Homo sapiens: one gene and its partners. The protein of the gene in region 1 interacts with the protein of each later gene in a biochemical or structural test. Each region holds a gene or a part of one and is shown in the gene's direction. Other genes may lie near its edges. The genes, in order: MAGI3, KCNJ4 and CRHR1.

Evidence for each region.
Region 2: the proteins of MAGI3 (region 1) and KCNJ4 interact in a test that uses a peptide from one of them, tested with the Homo sapiens proteins (one large-scale study listed by IntAct).
Region 3: the proteins of MAGI3 (region 1) and CRHR1 form a complex in vitro, tested with the Homo sapiens proteins (2 studies listed by BioGRID and IntAct, with this or other methods).

Annotation. Positions count from the first base shown.
Region 1 is NC_000001.11:113,641,868-113,645,517, forward strand, and holds part of MAGI3 (membrane-associated guanylate kinase, WW and PDZ domain-containing protein 3), read left to right. Parts: intron 1-43; coding exon 44-649; intron 650-1,875; coding exon 1,876-1,907; intron 1,908-3,650.
Region 2 is NC_000022.11:38,448,579-38,452,228, reverse strand, and holds part of KCNJ4 (inward rectifier potassium channel 4), read left to right. Parts: intron 1-3,650. UniProt on the Homo sapiens protein: Inward rectifier potassium channels are characterized by a greater tendency to allow potassium to flow into the cell rather than out of it.
Region 3 is NC_000017.11:45,818,672-45,822,321, forward strand, and holds part of CRHR1 (corticotropin-releasing factor receptor 1 isoform 2 precursor), read left to right. Parts: intron 1-2,683; coding exon 2,684-2,769; intron 2,770-3,650.

The DNA of each region.
Region 1 (3,650 bases):
ATTTGTTGATTTTAATATTTTTAACATGATTATGTTTTTCCAGGCGATGTTATTGTAGACATCAATGGCAACTGTGTCCTCGGTCACACTCATGCAGATGTTGTCCAGATGTTTCAATTGGTACCTGTCAATCAGTATGTAAACCTCACTTTATGTCGTGGTTATCCACTTCCTGATGACAGTGAAGATCCTGTTGTGGACATTGTTGCTGCTACCCCTGTCATCAATGGACAGTCATTAACCAAGGGAGAGACTTGCATGAATCCTCAGGATTTTAAGCCAGGAGCAATGGTTCTGGAGCAGAATGGAAAATCGGGACACACTTTGACTGGTGATGGTCTCAATGGACCATCAGATGCAAGTGAGCAGAGAGTATCCATGGCATCGTCAGGCAGCTCCCAGCCTGAACTAGTGACTATCCCTTTGATTAAGGGCCCTAAAGGGTTTGGGTTTGCAATTGCTGACAGCCCTACTGGACAGAAGGTGAAAATGATACTGGATAGTCAGTGGTGTCAAGGCCTTCAGAAAGGAGATATAATTAAGGAAATATACCATCAAAATGTGCAGAATTTAACACATCTCCAAGTGGTAGAGGTGCTAAAGCAGTTTCCAGTAGGTGCTGATGTACCATTGCTTATCTTAAGAGGAGGTAAGTAAAAGCACAACATAGAAAAAGTTTCAGTGTTCAAGCGTTTATATCTACTGATTGTCTTTCCTTACAGTTTAGAATGTGTTTTCCCAGCAGACTTAACTAGTAATTAGTGTGCATTTTCCTTAAGGTTCTGTCTGATTGTTTCCATAAGCAGTGTCTTTTTCAGCAGTTTTTAAAAAATTATTAGTGATTTCATTCATGTCCATTATGGATTTATTTCCCTCTGTATTCTTTTGAAAATCTGATTCATGGCTTTAATGATTAGAGAGAGTCACAGCATTGTGATACTTCAAATGAAATACATCCTCTTAATTTCATTTCTCTGTTGATGACAGTAATAGAAATTGACTCTTTCAACCAATGGTGTGTCATCTGGACCTCTGTAATGCACCAAAGATGTTTTGAAAGAGCTAGCATCTCTGTGGATAAGTAAAATGTTGGATGGTGTATTAATCTGTTCTGCAGAGGCAATCATGATAGCATGTGCTCATAAAGTTTTCATCTTAAGCTCTAGTATCTGACTGTAAATGTTAATTAAACCACACAGTGCTTATGTGAGAGAAATATAATTTTTATTTTCCAAGGTCATCAGCTGACATGAACTCCTCCCAGACATTTACAAATTCAGTTCCAAGGAATAATCACAAAGTTGAATTTTAATATGCTTTCTTAAATCCATACTTATAAGTGACTAGTATCTTAAAGAATAAAAGCCACTTACTCTTTTATCTCTCTGGATTTTACTTTTCACTATTGAGGCAAACGAGCACTTCAGCTTCTTTGGGAGTTGTTTCTTATTCTCGTTTCTTTGATTCACATGGGTTTCTTCTCTGAGTGATGGTGGAATGTGCTCCAAGTAAGGTAGAAATCTCTTTGTGAGTGCTTGAGAGTAATCCAGGGCTTCAACAAGTATAACAAAGACACCAAAGTTCAATGTCACACAGGTTTGATGTCAGTTTCCTGCCTTGCCACTTACTGGTTCTTTGGTATAGGAAAGAATCTTAGTTTACCTTCTCTGTAAGATGGTCATAACATTTGTGCCTTCAGATTGTTATAAAAATGAAATGAGATAATATATGTATAATGCCTGGTACATAGGAGGTTAGACACAGAATTTACTAGCGTACTAAAAGTTGAAGCTAGTTTTATCGTAAACATTAGCAGTATTTGTGATCTGGGAATGCATCCTCTGGTTTTAAACTTTGGTTCATTTTTTTTTTAAGGTCCTCCTTCACCAACCAAAACTGCCAAAATGGTGAGTATACACTGGTCCTCAAATCTTTTCCCCAACACACTGAGAGAGATGCCACATTCCCCTCTGTAAGAGGAGCTCACTGTGGTGATGATTATCGACTGGGAGAAGTTAGGAGGCATGCTGCCCTTGGCTTGTATTTATTAGAAACTAGGGAAGCGTTTGAAAAAGCCCCCTAGTGAGGAGATGTGCTCCACTGGTTAAGTATTGCAACTGGAGGATTACTAAAGGCCTATTGTACCAATAATCCTGTTCTCTAAGTTATAAAATGTGAACACATTAAAGAACCAACCTAGAGGTCTTTTTACTTTTGTGTTTCAGAGAAACAAGGTAGGAAGGACCTAAATGTTAAGACAGATGATAAACTATTACATCGTCTTGCCCCTGCCTGAAGAGAAGACGTACTAGTTCACATAATTTTGTGGGGACTATAAATATGCATGCACCTTTAGATAATCTTCTTACTTTTAAGACTAAATTAGGCTTATTTTTTTATTATTTATTTTTTATTTATTTATTTATTTTTTGAGACGGAGTCTTGCTCTGTCGCCCAGGCTGGAGTGCAGTGGCGCTATCTCGGCTCACTGCAACCTCCGCCTCCGGGGTTCAAGCGATTCTCCTGCCTCAGCCTCCCAAGTAGCTGGGACTACAGGTGCACGCCACCACACCCAGCTAATTTTTTTGTATTTTTAGTAGAGACAGGGTTTCACCATGTTGGCTAGGATGGTCTCAATCTCTTGACCTCATGATCTGCCCGCCTCGGCCTCCCAAAGTGCTGGGATTACAGGCATGATACACCACGTCCGGCTGACTAAACAAGACTTTCTAGAGTAATTGTGGCCTTCTATGCTAAATTTGCTTGTTGTCAAAGTGAAAGACCTGAAACAGTGTCTTCTTTGGCATTCTTCTAAATAATCACGTAGCCTGTTTAAGGACCTGTGCAGAGAATAAGAACTTTAAAAAGGAGTGCATCAAATGCTGCTGTTGTGGAAGAAACTCTACAAGGTGCACATTTGTAGCTATTTAAATATCCACAATGTTTTGGATATAAAGACAATTTTATTTAAAATTCTAATTTAGTTCTAGTTTGCTCCTTTGGAGTCTTTTATCTCAAAATCAAAAGATGGCCTTCCATAACCATAAACTATAGACAATTATATTAAATGAATTAGTTCTTTCTAGCCCACCAAGTAGGAATCCTCTGCAAATTTGCTGTTTTATAGATTAAAAAGAATCCCTCAGCTTCTGGCCTTTTTTTTTTTTTTTTTTTTGAGACAGAGTCTCACTCCATCACCCAGGCTGGAATGCAGTGGTGTGATTTTGGCTCACTGCAGCCTCTGCCGCCTAGGTTCAAGCAATTCTTGTGCCTTAGCCTCCCAGTAGCTGGAATTACAGGTGCACGCCACCACACGCAGCTAATTTTTATATTTTTGGTAGAGATGGAGTTTCACTACATTGGCTAGGCTGGTCTCAAATTCCTGACCTCAGGTGATCTGCCCACCTCGGCCTCCCAAAGTGCTGGGATTACAGGCATGAGCCACTGCGCCCGGCCAGCTTCTGCCCTTTTCATTGACTGCTTATACTACTTGGGTCCAGTGTGAACAGAAATTGTTTTTGTCCATTCAGTTCAAATTGCACTGTATTCTACATTTCTCTGGTTCCTCTAGTAATCATTTTTAACTCCTGTGCCACCATATTTATTTCATAATGGATGCCACTGCAGTCGCAGTGGCCCTAATGCTTTAT
Region 2 (3,650 bases), on another chromosome or scaffold:
GAACGGCTGGCCACTTAAGATCTTGGCGATTCTCCTGAAAGAAGGTGCCCTTAAGTTCTGCGGCTCTCCTGGGCCCAGAGGAGGGAGCCCTGGATTTCAAATCACCCTCTGTGACCTTGAGCAATTGGCTTCAATGCCTCATGCCTCCATCTCCCCACCTGTAAAATGGGGATGACAGAATCCTCAAAGGCAACAGCTATGAAAGCAGGAGACAGGAGTAGAGATAAGGCCTCTGACTCTGAAACCATAGACACTCAGGGGCCCGTGGATCCAGCATGCTGGGCAGGGGTTGGACAGGGTAGAGTGGGAGGGTGCCTGGATTCAGACAGAAGGTTTGGAGCTTAAATCACTGGTCTGATGCCTTCGTTTTACAAAAGTGGAAACTGAGGCCTGAGGGGGAAGTAGACCCATCAGGGTCACAGTGATGGTTTGTGGGCGGAGGAAGCAGAGCCAGGGCCATTGTTTTACAAAAGTGGAAACTGAGGCCTGAGGGGGAAGTGGACCCATGAGGGTCACAGTGATGGTTTGGGGGTGGAGGAAGCAGGGCCAGGGCCTGAATCCAGGGCTTCTGGCTCCCAGCTCTATCTGGAAGCAGACAGACAGATGTCCCTGTGTAACACTGTGGCAAGCCCAGACAGGACCCAGGAGCTTTGAGGGCCCAGCTCTGAATTCGGCCACCTCCTTTCTCCCTCCCTTCTCTCCAGATCCCCTCACCCCACTGTCCTTGGGCACTAATCCCCTCCCTCTATTGGTCTCTTTGAAGAACTCCTTTCAGTCTCATTTTAAAGCCAGTTTCAGGCAGTCCCAGGCAAGGACAGGTTGGATTTGGGGTTAACTGGAAGCTTATGCTCCATTCTAGAAAATTCCCAGAGCTGGAGGTGGAGCAAGATAGGGAGCAGCTGTGGTTGTTTTGTGAGATAGTGGGCTCCTCAATCCTAGAGGTATTCAAGCAGAGCCAGATGAGCACCTGCCAGGTGACTCTCGCCTTACGGGTGAGGCCGAATAACATCCCCACTTCCAAAATCCTAGGAGTCTTTGGTGTTTCCCAAAGAGGAGCTGGGAAGCAGTGCCCATCGCTTCCCCGCTTCCCAGCGAGGAAACACATTTGCTCGCCAGGCACTGGGCTAGGAGCTTTTGCAAATTCCCATTTAATTCTCCATGGCAATGTTGATTTGATGTCCCCGTGTTATAGATGGAAGGGCCATGGCTCAGAGAATCTATGTGATTTGTCCAGGGTCACACAGTAAGACAGCAGAGGAGCCTGGGTGTGAGTTCAGACTAGTCTGATTCTCGGGGGCTGTCTCTGGGGCTTCCCTGGGGAAAGAGTGGAAAACGTTCCTCCCTGGGGCTGGGGCTTGGCAGGAGATGGTCTAGACGCCCCCACAGCGTGACACCCCCTCAGGGATCCTCTGGCTCCTCTGGGGGCTCCATTCTGAAGACAGATACCACCATGCATCTTAGGGGAGAACTCATTTCATAGATGGGAAGACTGAGGCCCAGAGACAAGGAATGACCTGCCCGAAGGTGCCCAGAGAGTTAGATTAGGGCCAGGCTGCCTGTCTCCTGGCCCAGGGCTCTGTCCCCTGTGCCAGTGAGTGAGGAGGGGCCTTTGGGCTGACGGTGGTGGCATGAGGTGTGAGGTCGGGAATGCAGAGGGCTGAGAGAGGGCTGGCTCCAAGCTAGGGCTGCAGGAGGAAAGTTATCGGCGCAGGGAGAGGGGAGCAGAAGGGAAATGGCACATGTGCTACAGAGCCTGGTGAGGTCAGTGGGACCTGGCTGGCAGGAGAGGGTCTTGGAGACAACTTCCTTGGGTGGCTCTCTGTGTGACCTTAGGTCAGTCCCTCACCCTCTCCGAGTGATGTCCACCCATCCATGTGAACCTGGGCTGAAAGATCTATTTCCACCGAGTAGCTGTGGTTGGGCTGCTGTCGAAAAGCGCTCCTCCCAACGATGGGAGGACTGTGGGTCCTGGCAAGGGGCAGGCGGGAATCCTAGGGGTTGGCATAACCTTTAAGCCTCCTCTGCGGACTCAGCCCTCCTTGGGGTGTGGGGGATCGCCAGTCACAGCCCTTCTTCTCCTTTTCATCTTTATTTTTCTCCTGTTCCCTCTTCCCCTCGCTACGTGGGCTGATCGCTGCTCAAACTTTTAATTCAGATGGTAATTGAAATAATAATATGGGCTGAGGCCCCTCTGCTTGTGACGCTGCAGCTGGTGGAGCTCGGCTATGAATAGACCTTGAGTCACACACGCGCGCTCCTGCAGGCGCGCACACGGGCGCTCACGGGGTGGTGGGTGGGGTGCAGCATGGGGAGCAGGGGTGAGCTCACGCTCTGGCTTGCTCTGGTCTTGGCCCCCCACTCCCAAAGGTCTTGACCAATCCTGGCCCCGTGGCCCAACACGGGGTCCCTGTCGTGAACCTGGAAGACTTTGGACATAGATGATTCTCATTTACAGAAGGGGAAACTGAGGCTCAGCAAGGGGAAGTGGCTGGCTGGAAACAGGCTGGATTTGAATGGATGGGTTTTGCCTGATTCTAAGACCACTGTTCTCTGTTGGGACACACAGGGTGGGAAACCGGTGGGGAGGAGTGCTGGCGTGTGGCCCCTGCCCCTCCCTCTGCACCCGTTGCCCCACCTGCTCGCAGCCCCCTTTCAGCCTGCGCGTGCATGCTCAGGCACAGACACAGGCACACACGCATGCGCATGCGTGAGGGCTGCTCAGATGGCTGGTGCCGTTGCTTGGTGGCTGGGGTGAGAGCAGTGTTCTCAGGGTATTGCTGCAGGAGGGAAGCTGAGTGCCAGGCTCAGCGCTGGGCTTCATATTCATGATTTCACTTAATCCTCCACCACCCTGGGAGAACCATCACCCCCACTTCTCAGATGAGAATACTGAGGCTCAGAGAGAAGCAAGGATTGGTTCCAGGCTCCTGGGTGGAAACAGCCACAGATGCTTTGTCCTACTGTGCACCCAGTGCCAGCCCCTCCAGGACCCTCATTGGCCACCTGAAGGGAGGTGGGTACATGTCTGCCAGCCTAGGCCTCCCCTTTCCTTCCATGCAACAGCTCAGCCACTCCTCCCTGTGGCTGCTGGCCAGTCCCTGACCAGCCCTGGTGCCAACAGCTGGGACGTCTGGCCTTGGCAGGCAGGGGAGGGTGAGGTGCCCCAGAGAGACATTGGCAGGTCAAGAGGTCCTTAGGGGCTACCAGGAAAGGGGGTCCTTGGTGTTCCCGACCCCAGCAGGAGCTGTGGAGGGAGAAGTCAGCGTTGTAATGGTGACCTGTCAGCTGGGAGCTTTGGTCTAGGCCTGGGGGGCCCCCAGCAGGGCAGAGGGGAGCTGGGGCATGGGAGGTGCAGTTGGGCGGAGGAGCTCCCTGGGACTGGGATGGAGGAGAAGCCCCCACCAAGCCTGGCCCAGCAGCTCCTGTCTGCGGCTGCATTGGCCTTCTCTCCATTTCCTCTCCTGGGAGATGGAGAAACCGAGTCCGGAGACCACCAGGGTTTGCCCAGGGTCACTCAGCAATGGTGGCAGAGCCTCTCAACCCGGAGCTGCTCCTGACTCCTCTGTGTCCTGATGGCTCCCAGGGCTGCCGGCCCCTCCTCTCTCACTGACACTCCCCAGAGCTGTGGGGTCTGTGGGAGGCGAGCAGGG
Region 3 (3,650 bases), on another chromosome or scaffold:
GCGCCAGATGAGGTGGAGCACGCCCGTGCAGTCAGTCACAAGTGGGTACCCAGAGCTGCACCTCATCATTAAGCACTAATTAATCCATTTACTGATGAGTTGCTGCCAGGACTTCTAGGCCTTCTCCCTAATGCCCTCCCTCCTGCTGCATCTGATCTTCAAAGGGATGGGAAGCATTTCCAAAAATATCTATTTTCCCGTGATTCTTTGGGAGGACTGCTCAGCTCAGCAATTAAAGACAAGGAGGTCGCATCCTCCCTGGCAACGGCTCCCTGCTTGTTGGGCCTGCTTTCTTTCGGATCACCTCCTTTCTCCCCATCAAAGCCTGCTCCCTCTGGGTGACCCAGCCTCTGATGGGACTCCTGACTCTCCCCCACATGTCAAGGGGGGCAAGGGTGTTGAGCAAAGGGGCTCCTCCCACAATATCCACCGGTACCCTTTGATGGGGACAAGGGACACGCTCTGAGTCTCACGTAAGGTTATATAAATACAGCTCCAAGACAATAATAATAAAAATAACAGCCAACATCACATCCCAGGTACAGTTCCAAGCACCTTGTGCATGTTAACTAAAAATATTCAACTCTTGATGTAGGAGCTGCTATTCAGATGCTCTCACTTACAGAGGAGGAAGCTGACAGGTTTCGGGATTTGCCCAAGGTCACACAGCTAGTGGAAGGTAGTGCCAGGATTTGATGCTAGGCTGTCTGGGTCCAGGGGCCACGCTCTTAGCACTACTCCATGCTGCCTCTTAACTCAAGAACCACCCCACCCCATCCCACCACCCCCGGGCCCCTTCCAGCCGGATCTCTGTCCCAAAGCCCCTATCCCTGGAGGTATTTCAGAGCAGCCTCTGGTCCCGGGACTTCCCAGCCATGGCAGAGACACTGGGTTCTCCTGGTTCCTCGTCTCACCCTCCCCTCAGACCTCCATGAAAACCCACTGGGTGAGCCTCAGCCCTCCGGTAACTCATCCCTCATTTGGCAATTGGAGAGAATCAGCAGCCTCTTCACCAACTCTGCCCAAGGGCCTGAGGCTCCCTGAGACTGCGGTCCACTGACATGGAAGAGCTTTAAAAATCCATTTAGCCGGATCTCCCACTGGCCAGCTGTAGCTGAGCAGCTCCTCAGCAGGGGGACCAGGGAGGGGAATGGAGGGGAGTAGTGCGAGAGAGGAGAGGCCACATCTACTTTTCAGCCCTGGAGGCCAGGACGGGCTCCCTATCATCACCTTCTTGTCCTGATGCTGCCAGCAGAGGCAGCTCCCAGGCTGGATGGTCCCTTGGGGATCAGCCAGTCCAGCCCCTCCTTTTATAAATGAGAAGGGGTCCCCAGAGGTCAGTCATGCAGCACGGCAGCAGCTCAGCTGGTCCCAGGGCCCCAGCCTCTAGATCCTCACAGGGTTCTGCCCCATGGGGCTCCAGACTCAAGGACTGGGACTCCAGCAGCTTTCCCAGCCCTGTTCCAGCCCCAAGGGCCACTGGGAGCCACAGGAAGGCCTACAGTGAGGGAGGCTCCAGGTGAGATACTCAGGGCTTCATTTCTCTGCCAGGCAGTTCTGCCTGAAGTCAGAGCCAGAATTAACTCAAGGAAGCATGTTTAGAGCTACTGATGCCAGAGCCGGGTACAGGGTGGGGTGGGGCAACCTCTGCCAGCAGAGAAGATGAGATGGAATTTAGAACTCATGCTGTCCCTTCCCAGCTAGGTTTTAGGACCCTGGAGCTCAAGCCTGGTAGGCATGAAGGAGGGTAAGGGGAACACGTTGGGCAGCTCTGCCCATCCCAGGGCCCTAAAGCCAGGCATCAATTCAGCTCACAGGGCCCCTCCCCATCTCCTTAGAAGGTGACAGGTTCTGGGCCACAGTCCAGGCCGGTGGCTGCACAAACCTCCATATGTCCCTGGGCCACTCTCCTGCCTTCCTCCTTGAGTGACATGGGCCAGGCTAGGAGCAGCTGTGACAGACCTGAGTGATGACATCTCCCCACACACGCCTGTCACCTGTCATTTTCTGTCCAAGAGACCTCCATCATGGATGTTCCCCCCACCCACAGACCACGACCTTCCAACACAGGCCCGCTATGGGGAAGTGCCACCATGGGACCTTCCCCAAGATCTGCCCCATGAACTCTGAGCCCCCATGTGCAGCACAGCCAGTGAGGACCTCCCACGGCAGCCTCTGTGAGATGGCTCTACCACAAGAAGCCCTGTCATGCCACCTGCCACGCGAGCTGTCACCGCATACCCTTCCACCGTGTCATGCCCAGCCTCGTGAAAATTGACTCATGAGGTCTCACCATTTTTTTGCTGTCTTGCAAGACCCCTGAAAAGGAGATTTCTCAGAAGAGCACCTACCTGTCATCTGCCACCACATAATGACTTGCAAAGGAACAGCCCAGGGAGCTGGTCAAGCCTGTCCACGGGCCAGTCCTGTGGGCATGATCATGCCAGCTTGAGTGGGCAGAGCCGGGGGAGCCACCAACCCCTGCTGGAGGCCAATGGGCAGAAAGAGGCAGGAAGATGGGGGTGGTAAGGAAGCCCCTCTCCCCAGCTTCACTACACAACCCCCAGCCAGCAGGTGCCTGTACTGGCCATCTACAGATCCATCTACGCATCCATCTGGGCCAGGATGGTCAGGCAGGGGCCGGGGCTGCCCCGCCATCACTGCCTCTCTCTTCCTTTTCCAGACAATGGCTACCGGGAGTGCCTGGCCAATGGCAGCTGGGCCGCCCGCGTGAATTACTCCGAGTGCCAGGAGATCCTCAATGAGGAGGTGAGGCTGAGCCGAACAAGGCTGCCCATATGGAGGGGAGTCCAGGGTCCCCAGCAGAGTTTTGTGCCTGCTACTTGGAGTCAGGGAGCCAGAGGCTAATGTCAAGGCCCTGCTCTAGTGAAGCTGACTGGGGAGCTGGAGCTGTCAACTTGGAAAAGGCCCATGAGCAGGCGCCCTCGAGGGCAGGCTGGACCAATGGGGCACTGGGCAGGCTCTGATGGTGATGAGATGGGTCCTTGTTCCTTCCTTCCTTCTCCCTGTGCTCATCGGGCAGCCGCTTGCACTGGGCATGGGACTGTCCTGGGGGTGCAAAGGGAGACCAGACTCGGTCACAGGAGTCCCACCCTTTTCCACAACACATGCCTGAGAGATACATCCAGTTCCAGCCACAGGGCTGTATGGAAACCAGGGACGGGATGGAGGTAGCAATGCAGTTTGAAAAAGCCCTTGGAAAGCCTTTTAAAATGTTAAATGTTTTTGAGCAGATATTGCTTACACAGAACTCAGAAGGTACAAATGGGAATACAATGTCCCCTCCCACCCCGTCCCCAGCCACTGGATTCCCTCCCAGAGGCAACCATTTTGCCAATTTCACAAGTGTCCTTCCAGAGACATTCTCCGCATACACGAGTAATTTTGTATACGTATTCTTTTTTGTTTTTACCTGAATGTTGCATGTTATACACACTGTCTACACCTTGCTTTTTTCATATAATCATCTATCTTAGAGATGGTTCCATATCAGTACATAAAGAGCATCTTCATTCTTTTTGCATTTGCATAATATCACAAAATGTACCATAACTTATTTAAACCAGTCTTTATTCTCAGTCTTTAGTTATTACAAATGCTGCTGCAATGAATAATCTTTGAAGGGTGAT